Regions from separate parts of the Homo sapiens genome. Here region 1 is linked to region 2. The links come from fine-mapping of genetic effects on gene expression. A gene starts in region 2. The other region holds a variant in brackets. All regions are shown on one strand. Distances are from middle to middle. Region 1 overlaps ABCA4 (ATP binding cassette subfamily A member 4). Region 2 holds the start of ABCA4 (ATP binding cassette subfamily A member 4).

Region 1 (2,839 bases), 100 kb before region 2:
GAGGGAAGAGCAGAAGGAGGAGAAGATACAAAGTCAGGCTTTGGGAAGGCCTTACACCCGCCCAGGTGTGGCCTCCAGGTTCCTCTTCTCTACCTTGAAGCTGTCACTCCACTAAACTGTCTTAATCCATATGGACCAAGGTTAAATGGGTATTTGCGGGTTGCCTTTCTATTTCATGTGAATATTTCTAGACAACCTTTCTTTTTATTATATTCTCTAATTATTTTTATGGTGTATAGAAATAGATGTTTATATTAATCTTATGTACTGCAATGCTCTCATTAGCTCTAATAATCTGTCTATAGAGTCTCTTGAATTTTCTATGTTGACAGACATACGGTCTGTGAGATTTATCTTTTGTTAATAATCATCTTGTTAAATCACATTTTCAAGAAGTACATCGTAACACAAGGAAATGTTCATGATGTAAATTTAAGTGAAAAGAGGGCAGGCAAGTTGTACAGGGACTTGGCTCTATTTATTCTTTCCTCGGACAAATAGAAGGCATCTGGCTGAGGGGTAAGTTGGGGCTAAAGCCAGCCTGAACTTTATGTACAAGCCATAACCCCTGGCATGGGACAGTGTCCACCTGCAGAAAAGAGCATTTTTACTAATTTCCACAAAGGTATCCTATGTGGTAGTCACTACCTTGATAAAACTACAGATCATATCATCCATACACGTAGTAAGCTTAGAACAAATGACTGGAAGGAGACACACGAAAGTGTGGCTGAGTGAGAATTAACAGAGGACAGTCTAGGGCCCTAGGGTGTCCAGAGGAAGACACCAAGGAGCCAAGGCCCAGGTTTTAGTGGATGACCCTGGGCATGTTCACTGGCACTCAGCGTGTGCTAGGATAGTAAAATCAGGACCCCACAACGTTGCTGAAGTTTGCACTAACAAAGGTGCTCCTACCAACCCCTCCTCCATGTAGGCCTCAAATAGAGTGAACATACTACAAAACGCACAAGGCCACTGTCTCCACTGGCTGAAACTGTGCAAGAAGAGCCTCAGCTTGAGGGTAGCAAAGCTCTGTCGACATCTCCAAAGTATGCTCTTCTGAGGAAATTCCTGGAATCTAAGATAATTACTCCGAGGGAGCTGAAAGGTTTACTGAACTTTGCCAGTTCCTGGCAGCTGCTTTGCACATAGCAAAGATAATAATTGTATAAGCTCCAGGAGCAACTTGCTATCAAAAGCCAAAAGGGAATGGAACCAAATGTAAACTTACTT[G/T]CCACATAAATGTTGGGGAGAAAGAATGACCAAGAGGTCTGGTATGTGAAGTGTGAGGCACTTATTTGAAAGTCGGATGTTCATATGTGCCTGACTAAACAGCATTACCATCCAAATCAGCACTTCGCGGTGGTGAGAATCCTCTCAGGATGTTCAAAGAGTGGAGAAGGTGACAAGAAAGTGGTGAGGCTGGGGCTGTGGTGGCTTACACTGTAATCTCTGAGAGCTGCTCCTTGGTCAGGTTCAGGGGTTGGCTAATGACGGTGATTCCATACTCCTCGGGGCTCCTGTCCTTAGGCAGGCTGGCCCGTAAGATGGCGTTGTGGGCCACATTGAGAAAGCTGACCAGGGCATGCCAGCCTTTGTTATTAAACCACACCTAGAGGGTGGAGAGGACATCTGAGACGCTGCACTAACAGCTAGTTAAAGCAGAAATCAGTGAAGGAAAGGAAATTTGAGAAGCAGGAAGGGTTTGGTAGCTGGAAGACATTCCTTGCTAGATTTCAGCAGGAGGAGGGATGGAATTTAATGAAGGTAGGAAAGTAAAAATAAAATAACCAGCTCAGGTAAATTTTTAGCTCCAGAGCAGATTATACATAGGTCAAGTACCTTAATGTTGTCTTCAGTTTCTAGATGTTTAAGGAAATCAGGTATTTCTTTAGAGGCCTCTCTAGTGATAGGGCCCTAAAAACCATGTAAACAAACAAACAAGACGGTTTTAATTTTTTTTTCCTGTTATCACTCATGAGAGTTTCTCATTCATGGTAGTTAAGCAAGTCAAAAATCCTACTCAAATCTCCAGTCTGTTTACATACCCCGCTCACATTCATGATCCGGCCAAGGTCGCTTAAAAACCCAACAAGTGCTTCCCCCGTGATGGGGACGACTGGGAGCTTTCCTCCAATGGAAATTCCTCCATACCTGACAAGGAAACAGGAAATCCTCAGACCAGGGCCACGAACTTCACGCCTACTAGTAGCTCTCTCGGGTTTTGTAGGGAAACATGAACTTTCGGGGGAATTGCCTGGACCAGCGAGCAACATGGCTCCACTTTACAAACCAGCTTTTAACTCTTTTCCCACTGCTGCTGCCTCCAGGAAGGAGTCCAAACCCTCATCCTGGCCTCTGAGGCCCTTCTGCATCTGGTCTGTGCCCCTCTCCAACTTCATCCTTCCTCAGCCCTTCCCTGGAGTGGCCTATTCTGGACATATCGAGTCACTTCCAGAGCTCCTCATGGCCCAGACTGCCTGCATGTCTCTGCCTTTGCATGGCTGCTAGCTCCCCTCGGCACCTTTCCCTTTTGGGAGCATCGAGCCAACTCCAGGTCCTCTTTCACATGTCACATGTCATCTCCTCCCATCCCAGCCAAGGACTCCTTTTCTGTGCCACCTCTGTGCTTTGCAGGTACTTCTAGCAGCACAGGACCCATCTTCATCCTGTCATCCCTACCTCTCGGGGCTTCTGTGCCTCACACCTGTTCAGGGAGGCCCTTAGCCTCTCCTGCCTGGACTTGTGCTCTGCTTCTTCACTGGCCCTGGGATCTATCTCCTGTACTGCCCTGGAAGTCTGAAGTGACTGTGTGGAAACACCAGTCTGAGTGCATCAC
Region 2 (2,912 bases):
TCCAAGTCTTAATAATTCCTGTCTCTTCCCTTGGTTCTCTCAGCCCTAGGGGTGGGAGCTGTGTCCTGCAATTGCTACCTCCATGATACCTTAGAGTTTCCTTTTACTCTCTCAGGTACCAGCTCTGTACTTAGCTAACACCTTTTCATATTAAACTCTAAGGAGACCCTAACTGAGACACTCATTCATAGGCCTTCACCTGTTCCAGTTGGCCCCATCACCTACATGAACTTATTCTGAACCGAGATTTGGAACAAATACTGTTCTCTTCTCGCCTAAAGCAGGTCTCCCTCCCTTTCCTCCTGATCTCTCCAGTGGCTTGCAGCTCCCAGGGTCCTAATCTCACCCCTACCCAGCCCCCATCCCTTATCCCCTCCTTCCTCTTTCAGCTCCTTTAGTCATCGGCATTTGCACAACTCTGCAAGGCTGTAGCAAAGTGCATTCTTTCTTTACAGTTCTATAGTCACTCCTTATCCTTTCCCAGAAAAAATTGCACAAAGCCAGTTGTCATTTACAAGTACAGTCTTGGTGTTCTCTGATCTCCGGCACCTTTTGCTCGCACTTCTCATGGACTATTCCACCTATGCTACTTTATGTTGCTCTTGGTCTCCAAACGTACTTTGGGTTTTCCCAGGCAGAACAGAAGCCAGTCCAGGGTGGAATCTGTGTCGTGCTTTTAGGGCTCCAGTCTAACCCAGGCTGGTGTCTGCTCATTGAAAGAGTTCAGGAAATGTGCGTGATGGTTAATAACGTATTGCATCTCACAGAATCTAGGACGCAGTCAATTGTAAGACACACTGTTACTTTTCTGCACCACTAAGAAAGAAAAATAATGTGTCCAGTTAAACTGTGACTTGATCGTGAGCTGCATCCCAATTTCAGAAATGCTAACATGTGAAAAAACAATGTGCCTCAGAGAATCAATGAAATAAGGCCTCACTAAGCTGGGAAGCTGTTCGAGGGGGTTCTTGCTTGCCTTTGGCCTGCTCTTCAGGGCTTAAAGTTCTTCCCACTGCTCAGCGTGGATGCCCTAGAGAGCGGTAGACTGGACAGGCAGGTGTAAAACGGGGGGTGGGGGAGGGGCGGGCAGGCAATGGATTGACAGGCACGGTAGGCAAAAGATTTTCATGTGGCTGAGGACAGAGAAACACATCTTCCTGGGAAGGGCACTGTCAGAGGGGCCCACAGAAAGGCCGTCCAGCTAAACACTGCTTCAGTGCTAATCGGCGACAAGCCCACTGACTGCTCACAACCCCCCACCCTGCCCCACCACCCTACCCCACCACCCCACCCCACACTTCCAACCTGTTTATTTGCTCCACACCTCATTTTTAAACCACAGACAGTAACTGTTACCTTTTGCCTTTTCCGCAGGGTCCAGTTCTTCCAGAGCAAAAGCTGTATCTGTCTCACGAAGCCCATGCTAATGACCACACGAAGACCAGATTGGTCAGAGCTGAGGCCCCTCAGACAGCAAAGGACATAAACGCCGTTAAGAGCGCCTCTGGCTCCGGACGCTGTGTCCTTCTCCTGGTGATTAAAGGCTACTTTTCCCCTTCAAAGCATAATCCCTTTTAATTACACATAAGCCCTTAGTTGGGGAGAGGAGGCCGACACTGTGTTGGCTCCCTTTTATGGAGAGAAAGAGAACCCTAAAGACACAAGTGGCTGGGCACCAGGGAAATTGAGGTGGGGGATGCAATGGGAAACCAAGACCCTCAGGCACTCTCCTCCATGAGAGGGGTTCCTGAGGGGGATGTCTTTAGGTATCTTTGACCTTAAGTTTGGAACAAAATCTCTTTGCATAAATATAGGCTGGGCATTTGTCCTCGGCAAGAGCCTGCCATGAGCCGGCAGTCAGGGTTTGACTGGCCCTTTAAGTCCAATCGACTCACTCGGCAGATCTGAAGTGATCCCTCCCTCTTTTAGTCTTTTATCTTGCTCCGTAATGACTGAAGTCATTATGGTCAGCTAGTTGGGTTATCTCTGAGCTTAGCAGAGGGTAATGATGTTTATCTCTTGTGCTGAAATTGATCGACTAGTAGTGGCTGCTTGGTGCTGTGATGGAAAAGGCACTGGAACACTCCAGGCCCAGCAGGACAGAGCCGTGACTGACTTGCAATGTCTGACTGGGGTGCGGGTATGAGGAGAGGCAGCAGGTGGGCCCATTACTGTCATTCCAGCCCTGCAATGGGGTGGTGCTGGGTTGACTCATCACCAGGTGGGGGATCTGTGATCCCAAGGGACACCCCAAACAGAAGCCTCCCTGGCACTTCGCAGTGGAACTTTTTGTCTCTGCCTCCTCAAATCTCAGAATGTGTTCTCTTTGAAAGACTCTAGACCCTTGAGACCTGGATGGGGCGGAGGGAGAACCACAGAGAGGAATGGATGCTGACTTCATAGAGTTTGCGGTCTGGTTGTAAACACGGGACTTGAACTCGAATAACTCAAGGAGTGTGATGAGGGCCCATAGGCTGTGCATGGTGGAGCTTCCAAGAAGAGAGAGATAGTTTCTGCTTATGATGGCAAAAAGGCTCCTTGGAGGTGATGGCATTTAAGACAAGCTTGCAGAATTACAAAATAATATTTTATAGTAAGTTTATTATTTATAAACTGCTTTTGCATATGTTATTTCATTTTAGCCTCACTACAATTTTGTGAGGTCCATATTTGCTGTTTTACAGATGAGGAACGTGAAGCTTAGTGAGATTAAGTACTTTGCTCACGGTCCCACATGGCAACGGTGGGTACTTGAACAAGTGAGTCATTTAAACTCTGCAAAGACAGGGAGGAATAGCTTATCTTGCCCAGGAAAACCACAAGTGAAACATGGCTGGAGTGAAGGCTATGAGGCTATGAATGGAGGATGCTGGAAAAGGAGACAGGAACCAGACTGAAAAATTGATGATGAT

What was found. PIP is the estimated chance that this variant, and not a neighbour inherited with it, causes the effect.
Region 1: its variant is fine-mapped to the expression of ABCA4 in nasal epithelium (TOPMed, PIP 0.96).

The regions. Positions count from the first base shown.
Region 1 is chr1:94,019,798-94,022,636 of GRCh38, forward strand. It overlaps ABCA4 (ATP binding cassette subfamily A member 4), which reads right to left. Exons shown (of 50, transcript NM_000350.3): 33 at 2,049-2,154; 34 at 1,843-1,917; 35 at 1,443-1,612. Among named protein-coding and RNA genes, the nearest start is that of ABCA4, 100 kb to the right of the region's middle. RefSeq lists an enhancer at 949-2,148. The variant G/T (reference allele first, on the strand shown) is at 1,234.
Region 2 is chr1:94,119,624-94,122,535 of GRCh38, forward strand. It overlaps ABCA4 (ATP binding cassette subfamily A member 4), which reads right to left and starts at 1,525. Exons shown (of 50, transcript NM_000350.3): 1 at 1,357-1,525. The coding sequence starts at 1,422.